5 separate regions of the Homo sapiens genome follow, and regions 1, 3, 4 and 5 are each reported to be linked to region 2. The links are microRNA targets in miRTarBase. Many come from high-throughput screens and were not tested one by one. Region 2 holds a microRNA gene; each other region holds the end of a gene's coding sequence.

What was found. The annotated mature microRNA hsa-miR-759 reads GCAGAGUGCAAACAAUUUUGAC and lies in region 2 at 1,383-1,404, opposite strand. An mRNA with a match to its seed (bases 2 to 7 or 8) in the 3' UTR can be bound and repressed. Matches are read on the target gene's strand: a 7mer-m8 pairs with bases 2 to 8, a 7mer-A1 pairs with bases 2 to 7 and ends in A, and an 8mer does both.
Region 1: miRTarBase lists ZNF219 as a target of hsa-miR-759. Seed matches in the 3' UTR shown: 7mer-m8 at 842-848.
Region 3: the mRNA of FAM222B is a reported target of hsa-miR-759. The part of its 3' UTR that is shown has no 7-base or 8-base seed match.
Region 4: the mRNA of FAM107B is a reported target of hsa-miR-759. Seed matches in the 3' UTR shown: 7mer-A1 at 1,242-1,248.
Region 5: the mRNA of PCF11 is a reported target of hsa-miR-759. The part of its 3' UTR that is shown has no 7-base or 8-base seed match.

Annotation. Positions count from the first base shown.
Region 1 is chr14:21,087,038-21,091,102 of GRCh38, reverse strand. It overlaps ZNF219 (zinc finger protein 219), which reads left to right. Exons shown (of 5, transcript NM_016423.3): 5 at 1-1,026. The coding sequence ends at 567. ARHGEF40 (Rho guanine nucleotide exchange factor 40) reads right to left here. Exons shown (of 24, transcript NM_018071.5): 20 at 3,998-4,065; 21 at 3,640-3,783; 22 at 3,005-3,135; 23 at 2,227-2,273; 24 at 855-2,089. The coding sequence ends at 2,232. Among named protein-coding and RNA genes, the nearest start is that of ZNF219, 9.6 kb to the left of the region's middle. RefSeq lists enhancers at 1-824, 3,329-3,478, 3,231-3,773, 3,774-4,065.
Region 2 is chr13:52,807,412-52,811,476 of GRCh38, reverse strand. It overlaps MIR759 (microRNA 759), which reads right to left and starts at 1,427; the gene lies at 1,337-1,427.
Region 3 is chr17:28,754,958-28,759,022 of GRCh38, reverse strand. FAM222B (family with sequence similarity 222 member B) reads left to right here. Exons shown (of 3, transcript NM_001077498.3): 3 at 1-3,043. The coding sequence ends at 753. Among named protein-coding and RNA genes, the nearest start is that of TRAF4, 13 kb to the right of the region's middle.
Region 4 is chr10:14,517,508-14,521,572 of GRCh38, forward strand. It overlaps FAM107B (family with sequence similarity 107 member B), which reads right to left. Exons shown (of 5, transcript NM_031453.4): 5 at 1,050-3,799. The coding sequence ends at 3,683. Among named protein-coding and RNA genes, the nearest start is that of MIR1265, 83 kb to the left of the region's middle. RefSeq lists an enhancer at 2,131-2,646.
Region 5 is chr11:83,184,242-83,188,306 of GRCh38, reverse strand. It overlaps PCF11 (PCF11 cleavage and polyadenylation factor subunit), which reads right to left. Exons shown (of 16, transcript NM_001346413.3): 16 at 2,513-3,628. The coding sequence ends at 3,413. It overlaps ANKRD42-DT (ANKRD42 divergent transcript), which reads left to right. Exons shown (of 3, transcript NR_149009.1): 3 at 3,454-3,816. PCF11-AS1 (PCF11 antisense RNA 1) reads left to right here and starts at 823. Exons shown (of 1, transcript NR_133914.1): 1 at 823-2,786.

The DNA.
Region 1 (4,065 bases), not on the chromosome of region 2:
GGCACCCAGTCCGGCTCGCTCAAGTATCACCTACAGCGCCACCACCGGGAGCAGAGGAGCGGGGCCGGCCCCGGGCCACCCCCGGAGCCACCGCCTCCTTCCCAGCGGGGTTCGGCCCCGCAATCTGGAGCCAAGCCGTCTCCGCAGCCTGCGACCTGGGTGGAGGGCGCCTCAAGTCCCCGGCCTCCTTCTAGCGGTGCTGGGCCGGGGTCCCGTCGGAAGCCCGCCAGCCCTGGGAGGACCCTGCGCAACGGGCGAGGCGGTGAGGCCGAACCCCTGGACCTGTCCTTGCGGGCAGGGCCGGGAGGCGAGGCCGGGCCTGGGGGTGCCCTCCACCGCTGCCTCTTCTGCCCGTTCGCCACTGGAGCCCCAGAGCTCATGGCCTTGCACCTTCAAGTGCACCACAGCCGCCGGGCTAGGGGCCGCCGGCCACCCCAGGCTGACGCGTCCCCGCCCTATGCCCGAGTACCATCAGGAGAGACCCCTCCCAGTCCTTCGCAGGAAGGGGAGGAGGGCTCCGGGCTGTCCAGACCCGGAGAGGCAGGGCTGGGGGGGCAAGAACGGTAGTGGGCCCTCAGGGGCGATTAGCTTAGTGAGCTTACCCCGCCGGAGCGGGGGAGCGCTAGAGGTAGTTGGGTAGAGAAGCCAGCAGGGGGCAGCGTGGGACCCATATCCCAGCCCCAGGCGGACCAGAGGTGGAAGGCGCGGCGGGCGTAGGAGGGTGGGCTGGCGGTACCCACCCAGCCCAAGGGAGTCACAGTGCCTTAGAAGTGGCAGAGGTGAGGGTCAAAGAACGGGGTCCCTGGGCTGGCAGAGAAGGTTTGTGTCCCTGTTGAGGAGCCACTCTGCCAGTCTTTGCTGGTCCATAGGCGTGAGAGTTTATTTTTGTACAAGGGGTGAGGGTGGGGGGCACTGTACCCTTCTAGCCCCATCAGGGGCCCTGTAGACGTCGCTATTTTTGGTACGATTCCTGTCATCCCTATTGCAGAGTCGTGTCCCCAATAAACAGGTGTCTTGAGGCACAGGGCCCTGTGTCTGTCTGCCTACCTATGTCCTGCTTCCCTCTTTGGGTCCTTCTGTCAGGAAATAGTCACCTCTTCAGACACTTAGTTATCACCCAAAGAGTTTGATAAGAAATGCAGAATATTGGGTTTTACCCCCAGGTTTCGATGCAGTAGCTCTGATGGGGCCCAAGAATTAGCATTTAACAAACAGCCAAGCAAGTTCTCACGCACTGTGGCCTGAGGACCTCATTTTGAGAACTGCTGGACTGTGCTGGATCCCAGTTTGTCTGTGACCAGTTCAGCCTCAAGGAGTAGGTGCAGTGTGGGAGAAGGAGCTTCAGAGAGTGTGTGGAACCTCTGGGAGCCACTGTGGAGGAGACACATTCTCCCAGGCTCATACACAGTCAGCTAGCTCTGGGCCTGGGAGGGGTAGAGGGGACCTTCCAGTCTTGGTTTTATTTTCTGTGTTCTAGTTAAGGGCTGGTTGAGGGAAAGTGCTCAAGTTATTTATCACCTTAATCCAGAGGACTACTCTAGCTCCTTAGAGGCAAAGTGTGAGTAAATACATTTAATATAACAATAGTATTATAATAACAGTAATTACATATATAAAGTCTACGGTTCCCCTGTCACACCCTCCTATTGTTTGCATAGCTTCATTGCTTGTGACACCTCAGAATGGAGTCACCAGGGACTCCAGTTGACCTGGCAGAGATGATTCTTCTCAGGGAAAGTCAGGGGGTGAGAAAAGAGGAGAACATGGGCTGCCAGGGAGGGCTGGCATGGGAGTGATGTCCTGGATACAGTGGCCCAGGATGGGAAAGCACCGGAAGAGGGATAACTTCCCCACCTCCAGGGTATGAAGGCAAGCAATGTGGCTGCTCTGACTCCTGCAGGAGAAGGCACCAAGCTAGGGAGACTAGAGATAGTGGTGGCAGGGCAATACTCTGGTCGTTAGACCTCCTCTGTGTCCAGGAAGCAGAGGGAAGAAATTCAGCGATCGCCCAGGGCTCCATTATGCCCCACTGCCATCCCAGCCCAAAGTGTGCTGAGAGGAGAAGCTGCACGCAAGTTCTGGATCTTCTCTAGAAGCCAGGAGAGAAGAGGGAGATGAGTTGGGAGAGGGAAGAAGCTGACTCCCAAGTAGCCGGGGACAGGAAGGAAGGTACATGCAAGATGGTAGGAGTGCTGGATGTGGTAGAAATTGGGGATGCTGACTCACCCAGGTCACAGAGGCGTGGTGGGGTCACTCAGGGCTCGAGCATGACTCTGGGGGGAGAGAAGCTACAGTGAATTTAGGGACATATTTCTTGTCTTTCTCTCTCTTTTCCTCCATTCCTCCCCACAAGCCTGTCAATTCACCTCTCTTTCCTACCCAAAATCCTTGAATTTTGCTATTTACTTTTATTTTTTTAGAGACAGGTGCTCACTGTTGCCCAGGTTGGAGTGCAGTGGCACAAACATGGCTCACTGAAGTCTCAACCTCCTGGGCTCAAGAGATCCTCCTGCTTCAGCCTCTCGAGTAGCTGGGACTATAGGTGCGCACCCCTCAAAAGTCCGGCTAATTTAATTTTTTTTTTTTTGTAGAGATGGAGTCTCACTATGTTGCCCAGGCTGGTCTTGAATTCCTGGGCTCAAGTGATCCTCCCACCTCAGCCTCTGAAAGTCTGGGATTACAGGTATGAGCCACCTTACCTGGCCTGAGTTTTGCCATTTTAACCCAAGTCCAAGCCAGGCCATTGGCATTCTCCCCTTTCCATCCACCCCAGCACTATACTCCTTATTTAAGATTCCTTTTAACCTATGACCTTGATGCCTCTTAGCCAGGTCCCGGGGAGAGGAGAAAGGTAGACAAGATAATAAATCCAGACTGTAGCCTCAGCTGGGAGCACAAGTTCACAGTTTTCCCCCAACCCCCCTGGGGTTGAATGATCAGAAAAGCCCATCCAGAAAGCAGCCAAAGAGATCACATTGTTCCCAGCCTCGTTGTAGGAACTTACCTGTCGGGATAGCCCTAAGATCCCTCGACTGGCCAGGGTGGGAGTGCTGCTCCCAGGGTGGGGGGGTTGCAGGCTGGGGCTGTTTCTTGGTCCTGGGGACACATCTCCAGAAGAGTCAAGTGTTTCTGGGGCTGAAGGGGAAGCTAGGGTGAGAGCAGAGTACAGAATCCCTCCAGATTACCTTAAGCAACCAAGCTGCTCCATCAGGGAAGAAAAAGCTCCATAGCAACAGGAAGCTGTGAGTCACCATAGCGATCCAGTTGCAAGGGAACCCCCTACCAAGAGGCAGGAAATTGTCAGCAGCATCATTAGAGCAACCAGGGAAGAAGCGACAGGAAACTATAAGGATTGCCGTGGTGAACCAGGAGGGTACAACAGGAAGCTGAGGCAGTTTCCATAGAAACCCAAGAAGAGCTAGAGAGAGAGGTACAGAGGAAGTGCTTCTTAGCAACAGGCTGTTGTAAGCATCACCCTAGCAACCAGATGGAAGGCTCTTTTAGCGGTGGGGAAGCTGTACATAGTTGTCATGGCAACTGGGCTTCTTGGCTAGAAAAAGGAATTGCTCAGCAGCAAGCAGCCTGAACATCACCACCATGACCGAGCTGTTGGGAGCCACCCCTTGAGAGGTGCCTCACCCAGGGAAATTTGCTTGACGTCCAGATCCCAGGCCTCCTCCTCGACGCGGGCAGGCAGGGAGCAGGCTCCCGGCGAAAGGCCGGGAAGGGAGGGGCCGGCATGCTCAAAGGATGACACGGCCACGGAGGCCCGGGTGCGGGCGGCTGCAGAGAGTGGGGAGTGGGGGGTGGGGTGCTGGTGTGGGAAAGCCCTCTTGGCTCCCTGGAATGACCCTCAGTCTCACAGAGGGCCTCCCAGCCAGTCCCACTGATTTGGGGACGAGATGCCTTTCCTGACTTTCCACCATACCTCCCCTTTGTATCCTCATTGTCAAGGTCTTCACTCCTGGGGGCCACCCCCCAGCACCCTGGCCCTCACCTCTTCCAGTGAGCAGGGCACTCAGCGTCCGCTCCCCAAGGGCTTTGATGTCCAGGAAGGGTTTATTC
Region 2 (4,065 bases):
TTTTCCAAAGAATAGCTCATTGACTAATTGGCCCCTTGAGTTAACAAATGGTTGCTATTTTGATGACTGAGTTTTTTTTATCTGTAACAACTTTTTTTACTCCGTTCAGTTCAACATACATTTATTGGGCAAGCAACAATGCTGGATATTGGGCAAGGCAAGGAAGGATAGAGAAGTTGGGGAACAAAGATAAATAATATGCAGTCTGTTGCCTCCAGAAACATAAAGCCTATTTGCATAAATAACTGATTTAATTATAAGGCAAATGGAATTTGATACTATAAAGGAGGCAAAGATATGCGAAGGCAGAGGAAGAAATAATGAGTGTTATAAAAGGTAATCAAAAGGGGCAAGAGGCAGGGAATTACAAGGCTTCATGAAGGAGGCAGCCTCTGAGCTAGGCCATGTAGAATGCATACAATGTCAATAGGTGAAGGAGAAAAGAGAATTCTAGGCAGAGGGAACAGGACAGAAAAGACACAGATGGAAGTAGAAAGGCTATGAGTGACTAAGTTGGAAGTGTAGGTTGAGGTCAGGTTGTGAAGGACCTTGAATTGAGTTCTGCAGGCAGTAAGGAGTCACCAAAGATTTTTGAGTAAGGGAGCCAAGTGCTCCCCTGCCAGCCTGAAACAACTGGGTTACTTCTAAGAAGCAATGAACTATTAGCTGATGTAAATCATGCTATTTGGGGGCCTCTTTGCTGCATCAGCTTAGCCTTACCCTAACCAATAAAAAGGCCCTCATTTTACAAATGAGGAACCTGAAGCTTAGAGGAGACAAGTGACTTAACCAGCATCATGTTACCATAACTCTACCACGTAGAACCAGGGCCAGACAGGAAATCTGGGCCTAGATATTCCATAGCCCCAAAAGATGTGATGATGGTGGCGGTGGTGGCAGTGGTGATGGTAATATGATGGTGATGATGGAGATTTTTTGTTTTCGATAAACTGGTGTTTCAAGGTTTTGTTTTTATACCTCTTCTTTACATTTTTCTATTTTTTAATGTAAAAGCATGGAACAGATTCGCCATATAATCATTTTAATCAATTTTCTGCGGTGATAACTTCCCTGCAACTTAATTGGCAAAGTTGTTTCCCAGACTAAAAGTACTATGGCATCATCTAAAAGTCACCTCAAAGAGACAGAACAATTCATTAAAAACCACTAATGTCTGCAGGGTTTAAAGATGTTAAGTGTTCATTTGGAGAATGAGAAATCAACGCACATTGACTTTTGCCATCCGGGTTTGTCACGCTCTGTGTCCGTGGGATGACTCACATTGCTAAAGCCCAAGTTTAATTAACATGCTTATTCTGTGCCGCTACTTCCATTCTAACAAATTAAATGTTTAAACAGCCAGTGCAAACATTTAGATCTGAGTCAAAATTGTTTGCACTCTGCCAGTTTAGGCATTTAATTTATTATAATCCTTTCCATAATATATACTTTGAAAGTCATTCTTTTGCACTGAAAAATATTGTTAGTATTTCAACTGATGCTATTGAATCTGAGACTATCAGAATGTGACGTGAGAACTAAATTGGACTGCAAATAAGGCCAATAAATGAGATAATAAATGAATCCTCATCTATCCTAACTTCCTCAATTGACCAAGTAATAATAATGACAGGTGCCAACTCAGGCCTGACTTTTGTCCCATAATCTCTGCTCTTGTGGAGAGATGCTATAAGATGAGACAAGGATCTTGCAAAGCTCGTAAACATTTCTTCTTAAGAGCCTTTCCTGGATTCTGACCTCTTCCTCCCTGCAGATGTTTTTTCAACATACAGAATTTTGCTAGCTTTCAACAACTTCCCCTTCCCTGGGCTAAAGAAACTGAAAATGCAATGGAAGAGAAATTATAACAAAAGCTTCATTGACGCAATGCTGACTGCACTGATAAAGATCTCAGGCAAGCAGCCAAAGAAGCTAGACAGAGAGAGGTTCCCAAGGAATGACCCTGTTTGGCCCCAGGTGACCACAAGGTGGCAGTGAAGGTCTTCTTCACCCTCCCCATTGGCACCACCCTCCCAGGCCCCGACCCCCAGGCACTGTGCCTCTTCCCCACTGTCTCCCAGGGAAACAAATGGATACACCCAGATCTAAAAAGCTGACACTTTTACATTTTTAATAAAGATAACTTGTGTTTTATTGTGAATAACATGGAAACTGGAAAATGATTGAAAATTTCCCCCAATAGCCCTTGCTTGAAGAAAATGGAGCATGGCGTTGGAACCAAGAGGAAAATATTGTAGAGTAATAGATGCTGGTCATGCAAACTCATTAGATCTCAGCTTCCTCATCTACAGAATGAGAGGTTAGGTTCCTCTCATCCCTGAGGTTTCTTCCAGTACCCTTCCAGAGACAATAGCATGGATCAAACTCATCAACCAAGGGAGAGGGGTCAGTTTCAGGAGACACCAATTGGTTTGTTACTGTGTGCTAATCAAGGTCACGTGCCACTGAAAACCTGAATGCATTCACTCTCTGATTCTTCAGGCTTCCATCTCCTGCTCAGAAATCATTCAAGGTCTTCCACAAAACATTCCAGATTGTTTATACTTTGAGATTGAATTATATAGAGTCAAGCTTGGTCAGATTTTATAATGAAGCTATATCTACCCAAAAATTGGCTGGTGAAGGAAAGGAGGAAATCGTTGAATCTAGCCAATTTGTTGTTTCTGAAAGCAATCAACTCAGATCAATCCAGCTTTGTTTGTTTTTCCAAATAATGTAGGTCATTTAGACACACGATAGGGCTTTCTCCTAGAGCCACCTCAAGGAACTACCCATTCAAAAGGGCTTTGTTAAATGAGAATGGATGCCTGCACCTCAACACACGCTCACTATTTAAATGCCAGGAGGGTTAACTGAGAAGTAACAGACAAAAGTCTTCCCACTGAATATCTATGCTGAGGCATTTTTAAATGTTTTTAATGTCTAAGGGTTGTAATTAAGTGAGGCATTAATTAGCTTTTCTAAACCACTTTTTAAAAAGTTAATCATAATTAGCATTAATTAAATACTATGTTCCAGACAATGTGTTAAGCACATTATATGTATTACCTCATCAATTCTTATTCCAACCCTATAAAGAAGGAACTGATACTTCCCCAATTTTATAGATGCAGAAACTGAGGTTTCAGGAGATGAGGTCACCTATCCAGGTTCACACGGCTGAAAACCAGGTATGCATGCCTGATTGCAAAGTCCCAGCTCTCTCTTTTTTTTTTTTTCAGACAGAGTTTCGCTCTGTCGCCCAGGCTGGAGTGTGGTGGCAGGATCTCGGCTCACTGAAAGCTCCACCTCCCAGGTTCACGCCATTCTCCTGCCTCAGCCTCCTGAGTAGCTGGGACTATAGGTGCCCGCCACCATGCCTGGCTAATTTTTTTTTTTTTTTTTTTTTTTTTTTTTTTGGATTTTTAGTAGAGACAGGGTTTCATCGTGTAAGCCAGGATGGTCTCGATCTCCTGACCTCGTGATCCACCCGCCTTGGCTTCCCAAAGTGCTGGGATTACAGGCATGAGCCACCACGCCTGGCCACAAAGGACCCAGCTCTTGAAGGAAGTTTATCCAGCCCCAATTCCGTTTTTCATGTCTTCATAATCCCCGAGGATGTTTTTTTTGTTTTATTTTGTTTTTTTGAGATGGAGTCTTGCTCTGTTGCCCAGGCTGGAGTGCAATGGGGCAATCTCAGCTCACTGCAACCTCCACCTCCCGGATTCAAGCGATTCTCCTGCCTCAGCCTCCCGAGTAGTTGGGATTACAGGCGCCCACCACCACGCCCAGCTAATTTTTGTATTTTTAGTAGAGATGGGATTTCGCCATATTGGTCAGGCTGGTCTCAAACTCCTGAACCCAGGTGATCCACCCGCGTCAGCCTCCCAAAGTGCTGGGATTACAGGCATGAGCCACCACGCCCGGCTGATTCCTCTTTTTTACTGGCACCTGTGTCAGTATTACACATTTATAAGTATTTTAATATTTCTAAAATGAGACCAACTCATCAAAAATTTGCAGAGGAAATCCCCAACTCCTTATAGTGGAAAGAGTACCAGGGTC
Region 3 (4,065 bases), not on the chromosome of region 2:
CACAGCGTCCCCACACCAATGCCTTCATGTGTGGTCAATCCCATGGAGCACACCCACGCGGCCACCGCCGCGTTGCCTGCTGCAGGTCCTGTCAACCTGCCCACAGGCATCTCTCGCGTCCCCACTGGCTACCCTAGCGACCTCAAGCCAGTCACCTGGAACCAGCACCAGCTGGCCCACCTACAGCAGATGTGCAGCGAGGCTAGTGGGACGCCAGCCCCTGGCCTGACAGGCAAGCATGCGGCAGGACGCGAGTTGGCAGGGCCTGGCTTTGTGGGCAAGGCCCCTGCCTACCCGCAGGAACTCTGCCTGGCGCAGTCCTTCCATCTGAAGCCACCCCTGGAAAAGCCGACCCCATCCCCACCAGTCAACGGCATGGCAGCCCCATTGGCCTACCCCAATGGTCACTACTTCCAACCCCTGTGGAACAACATTCTGCCCACTCCCAATAGCGACAGCTCGGGGTCTCAGGACCTTGCCATGCCGTTCCACGGTGGGCAGCCCACAGGTGCACCCCTCGACTGTGCGGCAGCTCCCGGGGCCCACTACCGAGCAGGGACCGGGGGCGGTCCAGTGGCAAGCCAGAACAGCTTGATGCAAACAGTGGATTACCTAAGTGGGGATTTCCAACAGGCCTGCTTCCGAGAACAGAGCCTGGCCATGCTGAGCAAGGCCCACCGAGCCCCTGGCAACCGAGCCCCCGATCCCACAGAGAGTCGAAGTCTTCATATTCAGCACCCAGGGTATAGATAGGTAGCCCTGCTGCCCTCCACGTGCAACACATCATACATCACCCTCCTAGGTTTAGTCTTTTAAGTAACTGGATAGTTTCAAAGTTTCACTGCTCCAGTGTGATCATTCTTAGATGTCTAAGAAAGGGAATTTGGTGGGATCTAAGTGGGGACAGAAGGGGTCCTCTCGTCCTCCCCTCCAGCAACTTTTGGTTTTATGTTAGAACCTAACCCTAAGCCCAGGCTTTTCTCTCCACTGACTGCCTGTCAGCTAGTCTCTCCACCTTGGCCATTTCCAGCCAGCTCCCACCCATCTTTTCTTGAATCTCTTCCTGTTTCCCTTAGGACGACTGAGGTGTGGGCTGACGGAATGCCCTAGTTGAGGTAGTATAGGTGCTCAGGCCCCTAATCCAGACCTCTACCTGTTGCTACCCCCCTTCCCCTCCCTCCAGGACTAAGAAGCAAGATTTCCCAGGTGCTCTGAAAGCTAATTACTTACTCATCGAAGGATCTCAAATCAAAGCTGACCCAGTCTTCATATCCTTCAAGTTCCTTTCCATTCCTCAAGGCTTTGTTTTGTGTCTATATTGATCCCACAGCCACTGCACTTGCCCTTGCCACACTTGATCTCAAGGGCATCTTGGAAGTATTTGACCATTTCTTGAGATATGGGGGGAAAAAGTCTTTGTATTGGCATCTTGGTTCCAGACTCCCCTTTCCAAACCTAGAAAAATACAGTGACCTTTGAGCATACCCAAGATCCCTTTCTCACTGTTGCCTGTCCCCTAACTCACCTCCCCACAGCCCCTATCCTTTCCCCCTCAACAAAAACAAAATCTACCTTACTTGAGGAATTAGGTAGGTAAGGAATGATCACATTGGAGTTTGGGATTAAAAACACCAAAAAAAAAAAAATGCATTTGGTTCTCTCTACACTGGCTAAGAATATTGCTCTACACTGTAAGTTTTAAACGTTACGTTTCTGTATGAATGTAGTGTGGGTTTGAGTAGCATTGTGTGTGAGTGGCCCCACAGGTACATTCACCCTCTAGTGCAGCCCCTCAGTTTAATGAAGGAAAAAAAAACAAACACAAAGCCTTAAGCTCTTTGAGTACTTCCTTTACCAAATGAGCATGGTTCTAACACCTGGAGCTGGGCCTACATTGGAAACAAGCCCCTCCTGCCCTCTGTCCATTCTTAGAGCATACCTTCATCCACTCCATGCTCAGCACGTCTCATCCCAAGCGACAATTAGTTGGCTAGAAACACTTTTCTGTAATTTTAAACTTAGACTGTTTTGTTACAAATTTTTGCACCATTCTGTTAAAGATGCAGAATTGGGCTTTTTTATTTTTTACAGATGAAATAAGCCCTTACCTTTCCTCTTGTCTCTGGGGAATGTCAGCTGATGGTTCTTATTTAAGGTTTTGCATTTTGTTCACTATCCACTACTGTTCGTTAGCCAGAAATTCTCTAGTGATCTGAAGCAATGTGACTGAAGACCAGTTTTAAGTTATGTGTTGGCAAGTTGCCTTATATTTAAAAGGAAAAAGAAAAAAAAAAAAGCCTGATTGTGTTATGCCAAATGATAGCAACATGAAGTCCTAATTTATTGTTCCCAATTGTTTTCCTGCCGTCTGTGAACACTGGTACCTCCCTGTCCTGATCCCCCAGGAGCACCTGTAGCTTCTGACTCAATGCCTTCTCCGAAGGTGTTGGCCGCCATCTCACCCAGGGCCCTCTTCCAGTTCCTGCTTTTCTGAGTCAGATTTAAAGAGCACCACTGTCTTCCCCCTACCCCTTGCTTGATCTCCAAAGCAGATATTCTTGCTGTATTTTTTTTTCCTCCCCAATACCTCTCCCTGAAAGGTGAGCTGCTATTTTAGGAAACTGGACCAGACACCAACTTGGGGGCTTTAAGTCAAACAACCTCAAACCCATCTCTTCCTGTGTAGGGGTGCAAGCCTCTGAAGCTCTCACTCCCACCCTTAGTCTGCATGGAAAATGTACTGTGATCCCCCTGCCCCCAACTGCCCTCGCCTTTGGTGTGAGATGTTCCTTCTTTCGGAGTTCAGCCTGAGTCCCTCTCCCCTCTGCCAGCCAACCCCCAGCCAGCAATAAGGGTCCAAGCCAGGGCCTCCTCTCCACACTCCCTGTCTCCATCCTACACTACCCTAGGGAATACCTGGATTCCCCATTCTATCCACATACTGTAGCATTCATTCTCCATCTCTCTCACCTCACCTGTGGTGGTTTATGGGTGTGATGGGGTTTTTAAGATTATTATAAACCAGTAAAAATAAGAAAACCTCGCTTTCTGACCTTGTTCTATTCGTTTAGTGCTGTGAATGTTTGAGGTAACTTTTTCTTAACAGTTTCTAACATACCTCACTTCATAGGAGTAATTCCTAATTTTTAAAAGGGGTACCCCTGTAATATGCATCCCACCCAGAAGCCGTCTCCAAATCCATTATTTAAGGCCAGGTGCTATGGTGATTGTAGACAGTTCTTCAATGAAACCCTGGACACAGGGTACCCGGCTGACAGGCCCTCTCCCTGGGCAGGGCTGCTGTGGGCTTACTGTGAAGTTTGAGGATAAGTGTGGTTTGCTGTCCCTCACTGGAGGCCCAAAAGGTCCTGCCACTTGCATTCCAAGGGCCATAAGTCATTGAGAAATGGCGATCTGGTTGTTTTGTTTTGTTTGAGGCGAAGTCTTGCTCTGTCGCCCAGGCTGGAGTCCAGTGGCACGATCTCGGCTCACTGCAACCTCCACTTCCCAGGTTCAAAGGATTCTCCTGTCTCAGCCTCCTGAGTAGCTGGGATTACAGGTGCCTGCCACCACGCTCAGCTAATTTTTTGTATTATTAGTAGAGATGGGGTTTCACCATGTTGGCCAGGCTGGTCTCGAACTCCCGACCTCAAGTGATACACCTGCCTCGGCCTCCCAAAGTGCTGAGATTACAGGCGTGAACCACCATGCCCAGCCAAGAAATGGGGATCTGGTTTGCTAATAACCCAACCTAAAACTTCAAACCTGCCTTCTTCCACTTCCAACACTTTGGAAATTCTGAGGGCCTCTGACAGAGGTGAAGGTGATAGGCACTGTTATCTGCAATGTAACTGGCTCCTCTTGGTGATTACAGTTTTCTTATGTTGAATTTTGGATAACTTTATTTTTTTGTCTGCAGAGGAAAAAAAAAAAACACTAAGTGATTGCAGCCAGGCACAGTGGCTCATGCCTGTAATCCCAGCACTTTGGGAGGCCAAAGCAGGTGGATCATCTGAGGTCAGGAGTTCAAGACCAACCTGACAAACACGGGGAAACCCAGTCTCT
Region 4 (4,065 bases), not on the chromosome of region 2:
CTGTGATTGTTAGGCTAGCTCATAAAGATTTTATTTATCCGAAGACCCTGGAAGTAAAATACTTCATCTCTTATTATACTAGGAAATGTATGCCGGGTAGTATTATTTTAAAACTTCTTTTAGCTGTCCTACAGTATTTTAAATCTTACTAAACACTTTAATTGCCCTGTCTTCTTTCAAATCTATTACCACTACTGTAAAACACACACACACACACACACACACACACACACACACACACACAGAGAGAGAGAGAGAGAGAAAGAGAGAGAGATTGGGGAAGTGGTCGAATTAAATGGATTGACAGCCTCAACACAGTCACCGGGACAAACTGCCTAGTTATTCCAAGGATGCAGCTACTCCTCAAATGATTTTTGGAATCTATCTTCTGCACTGGCTTTAGAGTTCATGGTATAACCTTAGAGATAGTAAATTTTTACTCTCCTGAGTAGATATAATATTTTAAAAAAGTCCAAAGACACTAGAAGTTGGGTGATCAAACTGAGTAATAATTTGTAGTTGAAAAATAAAGGCATAATTATAAAGAGACTTGAACCTCCAAAGTATACCAGTAGTATAATGCAATCAGGCGTATACCTTTCCAAAGTAACTTCTTTGAGGAATAACATTAATTTACTTGAATAAGCAAAAAAAACCTCATAATCACACTTCAGACATGCCGTATGTACTGGGGTCAAACGCACTGAACAATGGCCCTTCCCAAAACATGTCTCCCACTGTCCTACCAAGCTATCTAAAATGCAGAATACTTTGAGCTGAGGACTGACTGATGGCTGCTGCTGAAGGGCCATATGGCCTACTGCAATGTGTAATTTACAGTGCCATAAATACCTGAGATGACTCTGTTTGATATGACAAACTGTCAGCTTGACTGCCACAAGGCAATAGGACATAAGTGATTTGGGGGCAAGGTTGTCAATGAGGACCAGTCATCAAAAGGGAGACCCTGGAACCAACTCTCACCTTTGAAATGAACCCAGCCCCGTTCTGTTCCAGATGCACACCTTCAACAGATCAGACAAACATGGTTGCATGGTCCAAGCATGTGGTGATTTTTATTAAGAATAACTTTGGTTCTAAGAATTCCACCCTCAATTCTTTAATACTTTCCGTTAAAAACAATTATACAAGAGCAAATACAAAAAATATTAAATTATGAAAACCAATCCATTAAGGCTCCCTTTATATATATTATATACACTCAAACAAGTCAAGATTTTTCAGAGTAGAAGAATAAAGTCGACTGTTATAGCTTAGAAAGCAACACTACTACTATGAGACTATAAAACATTAAACTATTTTAAGAAAACCACGCTGTGGAAAAATGGAGCCATTTTTGTCAAAAAGTGGCTCAAAGCACAAAACTGCTCAGATGTTCAAGAGTCCTAGGAGTTTGGGCTGCACAGTATTAAGGGGTGAGAGGAGACCGACAGCCTGTTTGAATCAGGCTTGTGAGCCCAGCTCATCTGACAACTTCAAAGAGCTTCTCTGCCTATACATTCCACCGTTTAGCATAAGACACCACTTTACGCTATTTACAAGTCTCCTTTTGGCCAGATTTTGTATTACTAATTACAAATAATTCTGCAGATTTGAGTGAGATTAGGAAAGAAATGCTTTCTTAAGTAACTTTTTTTTTTTTCAGTGAAGAATGAATTCTAGTTAAGCTCTAGGAACAGAAATGGTCCTTCTAAAGGAGCCTACCAGGGCCCCTGTGAATACGATCAAGTGGCAGAATTGCTTCGAGAATACAGATTTCAAGATCTGACATCTAGTTAGATAAAAAGATATGAGCCAGTCCCGAATCTTCATTTTACAAACAGCATCGCTAGTCCACAGACACAAAGAAAGAATTCCAGTCAACGTGCAATCAGAAATGGGCTTTTCAAGATCATCAGTCATCACACTTCCTTCTCTCAAAAGAACGATGGGAAAAAATAGTTACCATTCCATTCTTCGAAACCAAATTACTGTAGAGCAACAATTTTTCTTAAGCATTTCTCATTTTATTCAAATAATACTTGCTGATGAGATAAATAATCCATTTCAGGTATAATCAACTAACATGTTTCTCTAACTAGCAGTATATTATCATTGCATTTACTTTTGTTCCCATTCAGATTGAATATGGGCCTAATTGTCAACTGCTAACACTAAAGCATTCCCATAGAAAGCTAATTTCTACTGTGCTAATTAAGGATTCAAAAGCTCTAGATCCAGCTTTCTATGAGTCTTCAAAGAAAGTATGAGAAGTCTCTCCAATGCAGAAATGACTGGCTGAACTGTCTCTACGGAGCATACTAAATCCTCAACAATTCTTCGGTATCACCCAGGCAAAAGGTACCGATGCCCACACTAGCAGTTTAAAACTAATTTTGCATGAGAATGCGGCTGCTGTCTGTAACTCGGCCCCCTCTCTGAGGAGCGTGCTGCTAGCTAGAACAAGGGAACTCAGCAGCCCCTCCCTTCCCATCAGCTGTTCCTGAGAGATGCAATATAGTAGTCATCGACATCATCCTTATCAACAGCATCATCACTCAGACAGTGGTGAAAGTCTTTCTTCACAAGGAAAAACAAAGATAAAGAAATACATGAGCATTAATCAGAAATTTTCAAAGCTTGGATTCTAATGATATGCATTATCATTAGACATTCAAATGCTATACATCTTCTGATGAAGCCTCCTTGACAGCAGTCTACACTTATTTCACATTAGAATGCCTAGAGAAATCCTGACTGCCCAGCTGGTCATGGGAACCTTCCCCACTCTCCTCTTGGAGAAATGAAAAGATGTGGCGGCTTCTACTTTTGCTACTGAAGCTGGGTTATATGGACTAGTTCCACTCTCTAAGGGACTGGAAGGTTATTCCATCTGAAAGAACTAGATCAGCAAGACATTTAAAAACAAAACTGAACAGAAACCCTCCTAGTAATCAAAGCAATTAATGAATGGACAGGATGTACCTTCTTGGAACTGGAATGTCACTATGTAGCCTGCTATTATTACACAGAGAACCAAAAGGAATGAAAATAAAATCAAGATGGGCTTTTAAACTTCTCACCCTATTTCTAAATTAAGTGCCAACAAGGGTAGTGGCTGTGCTCGACATTCACGTTCCTTCTCTGGTGTTAACTGCAACAGGGGTGAAAGTATAAATTAAACAAGACAATTCTGGGTCCTCAAAATTTACAGTGAGTGAACAGATTAAACGCATTTCTAGGTGATCTCAATTATCTAACAGATAACAAAAAGAGGAATTAAACACTTGTTTTTTAGCTTTTAAAAGAAAAAAGGCTCTGGGTCCCACGAAACTTGGAATGGAAGAAAAACCAAGTAGTGCAACTCTCAAGAATTGATTCCAGTGTCCTCTTCCTTTTTCCTGTTCTCACTTGTTTTGCTTGTTGGTTCTGTTAAGTCTCTGAACACAGGTCCATCATTCCAACTTACGTGCGGGGCACTGCCCTTCATTTGGCGAATAGGAACTGCAACTGTCACAGGCAAGGCATCCACCCAGATCGTAGGAAAATCAAACCAAATCCTACTGCAAGTCAAAATTCTCTGCTGGCTGAAATATTCTCCAGGGGCTTTTGCCCTGAGATTGAGAAGGCACCCACAGACAGCTCTGTGGGGTGACACACGAGGTCTTGGTGCAGCCTCAGCCTAGGACTCCTGGGCTTGGGCGACTTCTTGGCCTGTTCTCCTGAGATTGCCTTTCACCTTCACAAACTCGGGGGCATTTTCTTGCTCTTCTTGCAATTTCTGCTTCTCAAGTTCAAGCTAAATGACATTCAGAAAAGGAAAAATTATTTACAAACCAAGCAGCCTTTCAAAATACTCTTCTCTCTTTTCAAAGTCCCTGACAACTTTACTTCCCCACAGAATAAATTCTCTCCTGGTCCCCCACTTTTAAAGAAATGGATGGATAGAGTCTGGGTAATTGTGCACAGAAACAGAAGCCACTTGGCTGTCACTGCAAATAGGACCACGAGATGACAAGAATTGAAAAGACAGGGCTAAGGAAACAAATCCTGGAGTCAACGCGC
Region 5 (4,065 bases), not on the chromosome of region 2:
TGTTGATGTTGATTTCTGAATTATTTACCAGATCTGGCTGTTCATTAGAAAAAACTATGGAGCTTGAATACTAGAAGTGCCCCTGAATGCGAATCAACTAAATGAGACTCTCCAGAGATTAGGAATCTCTTAATATTCACTAATTCTAAGCCAGGTGTAGTGGTGTGCACCTGTAATCTAGTTACTTGGGAGGCTGAGGTGGGAGACTGGCTTGATCCCAGGAGTTCGAGGCCAGCCTGGACAACCTGGTAAGGCCCCATCTCTAAATTTAGTATTAAAATTTGTTTTAAATTCACTATAATTCTAATGCACAGCCAAATATGGGGCAGATCTGGATCACTGCCTTACATCTGGCCTTCTACCTCAAAGAGAAAATAAGAATTGAACTCAAACCCAACTGTAAATACTAGTGGCCATCTTGGAGAACACTGGCCCACCTCCATTCCAAAGCTAAATCCTTCCTGTGCTTTTATTTTTTTTGGCAGACAGTGTCCCTCTGGTTTTTCATATATTTGGTAGCGACGGAGTTTCACCATGTTGCCCAGGCTGGTCTTGAACTCCTACACTCAAGCAATCTACCCACTTCATCCTCCCAAAGTGCTGGAATTACAGGCATGAGCCACTGTGCCCCGCCCCTCCTGTGCTATTGTTGATACTATCTTGTTACAACCTTGAGACTGGTATACCGGTCATCTCCATCTTCAACCCATTTCTCCACTGAGCTCCTCTTAACATGCTAATGCCTCTCCTATTTGTCTAACTACAATTCAATCTCTGGAGTTAAACTTCATTTAAAAAAATAGCTTTTAATATTTTGTTACCTCTCATCCACACTACCCATTGCACCAGGTGTTGGCACCCATACTCAGCTGTTCTTAGGTCAACAGTTAGAGTATTTCTGAGTCTTACATATTTTCTTGACTTCATTTTGTTGACTACCTCGTCCATTGAAATTTTCTTCCTGCGCACACCTGTAATCCCAGCACTCTGGGAGGCCAAGACGGGCAGATCACTTAAGGTCAGGAGTTCGAGACCAGCCTGGCCAACGTGGTGAAACCCCGCCTCTACTCAAAATATAAAAATTAGCCAGGCGTGGTGGCGGGCACCTGTAATCCCAGCTACTTGGGAGGCTGAGACAGGAGAATCACTTGAACCCAGGAGGCAGAGGTTGCAGTGAGCCGAGATTGTGCCACTGCACTGAGCCGAGATTGTGCTACTGCACTGATCCAGCCTGAGCAACATAGCAAGACTGTCTCAAAAAAAGAAAAAAAAAAATTTTCCCATTGCTGGTTTTCCCATTTTCTTTTTGACCTTCCCACCTACCAGTCTTTGTTCCCCCATCCTTGACCCTCTTCTCCATGTGGATACCGTTGATACACTTTTAGGTTTGAATATCACCTTCCTTTTAGAATGTTCCATACCTTTAAGCATTTGATAAAAGCTATGGTGGTTTCCCCAGAAAAATGTTCAACAGGAAGTTTTGCCTACATTTTTGGATTCACAGACCTCAGTTCCTATGGCAGTGTTCATATACGTAAGTTCAGCTGTTACGTGTTTACAACTCAAATCCAATGGCTACCAGTTTTCCCACTGGACCTCTCTGGATTTAGCAATCTCTAAAATTGTATTCACTTGATTCTTAAAAAAATAAAAAAGCTTAAATGCAGATAGGATGTCACCCTGTTTAAAATTTCTAGTGGCTGCTCTGGTCATCAGTTTAATAAAAATTCCTTAGCATGACCAAGAAGGCTCTTCACTACTTAAAAATAAAGGCTGGGCACGTGGCTCATGCCTGTAATCCCAGCACTCTGGGAGGCCAAGGCAGTAGGATCACTTGAGCCCAGGAATTCGAAACCAGCCTGGACTACGTAGTGAGACTCCATTTCTACTAAAAAAATTAATGGCTCATCATAATCTATTCAAAACTACTGAGTTTTAACCATAAGAAGTCAATTTTTGAAAACACAAAAGTATTTTAAGCCTTTACATTTGCTGTTCATTTTCCAAAGATACCCTTCCCATCAGTATGGACTCCACTCCTGGTTATCCTCCAAGACTCAAATGTCACCACTTTTGTAGAATCTTCCTTAGCCACCTTCCAGTAGTTTGGTGTGCTTATTTCTATCCTAACAATCAATTTGGGGGTATCTTTTAAAATTGCAGAAATTGTATGGAATTAGAGGAAACAAAGCCACGTTCAAATTCTTATAAAAATTTTAAAGTGAGTGGCTTAATTTCATCTGTAAAGTGGGGACACCATCTACCATGTAGTTATTAGATGTGAATACCAGAGAAAATACATGTAGAAAGTGCTAGTGCCTGCCACATACTATGTGCTCAATAAAACTCAGTGTTTTATATGCCTATCTCCAATAAATGGCAGAAAAGACTAACCTGTCTCAGAGTGCCTGGCTCATAGCAAGTACCATGTTCATGTTTCAAAAAACAGATGAAAGACAACAAGAAAGTCACATTCTAAAGCTTTTCAAGAAATAAAGAAGTACAAACAAAGTTTCTTCATCATTCTATTTATTACATGTATGAATATTAACATCTCATGGTGTCCATCTAAGTCAAAACCAACAAAAGAAAAAAGTTAACCATATCTCAAGCAAACATTCTTACAGATTCCCGTTACTTAAAATAGAAATATGTTCATCTGCATTAAATCATTTGACAATTTGAAAAAGTCTTTAAAAAAAAAATCACCTTTAGTACTTAAATATATTTGTTAATTGTTTGATGGCATCAGTGTCCAAGTTCAAGAATAAAACTTTGCATCATTAGATATTTTCAAAAGTGAACATCTGGATGGTTCTCTATACCTGGAGATGTGTTTGTGTATATATATATATATATCTGCAAAATATGTCCTATTTTATCTTTAAAATTTTTTCAAAATCTGGCTTTTCTATTTGAGAAAAGCCCTACGGTGCTCTCTCGGAACCCCCTTTTGAAGGATGAAACCTCAAACTTGCTTCTTTAATCAGTGGGAGGCTACTAGAAAAAAAATCTTATGTTGAGGTTGCTGTTCAATTCCATTTTTACCCAATAAAAAGTACAGAAACTATTTGATGGTGTGCATAAATATTACACTCCATGAATAGCAAAAATATTTTTTATTTATAATTTACAGTTGCACAGTGAAAAATCGTACATTTTTACACATACAATTTCATTTCGTTAAATTTGCACACATCTACAGAACTTTCACACAACAAGCACCTGAAACTCTGCAGGCAGTAGGAAATGCAAATACTAAAATGTATTTATTAACCAAATGATAGCTGAAGGCCCTGCCTCAGCCAGACAATTTATATAGATATGTCTATATATACATAAAAAAATTCTTCACCTTCTAGATCCAACAGCAGCTTTTTTAAAAAAGAAAAACATACCTTTCTCATTTTATTTAAACTGACTCGACTGTGTCATTTTCTGTTTTAATTTCAGAGGGTGTTGCTATGCTTTCCTCTGTACAAGCTGGTGGTGTATCAATTCGTTCTTCCTTAACTTTGGGACTGTCACAGGGTTCCTGCAATTCGTTTTTGACAATGTTCAACATAATATTCAAGGGGTTTTCAACTGGTGTCTTGCTGGGAGATGGTGTACAATCAAATGAAGATGTCTACAAAATGAAAGGCCCTATGAGTACTGATGAAAGTTCAAAATTCTCACATTAAATAACATTTAGTCTTGTAAGACCCTTGTATGAACAAGAGAACACACATACAACCAAATGCAAATGAAACACCTGCCTCCCAACAAAATGTGCCATAAAGACAACCAGAAATAAAATATATATTGCACGTTCAATATGTACTCAGCAGTGAGTTAAGCAGTTAACAGCTAAGTTATAGGACATTATACAGCCAAAAAAAGTTGATTAGACATGCTTCTACATTTTAATCTCTACATAGATGTTAAACTCATACATATATCCTGGGACTTGTTACTACCCTAATTTCAAATAGTCTGAGGATTTTTTAAATCCCCACAAACCATCACCCTCAACACTAGTCTTCTGACAACCTAAATAAACCTTCCAAATTGCCTCCAACCCAT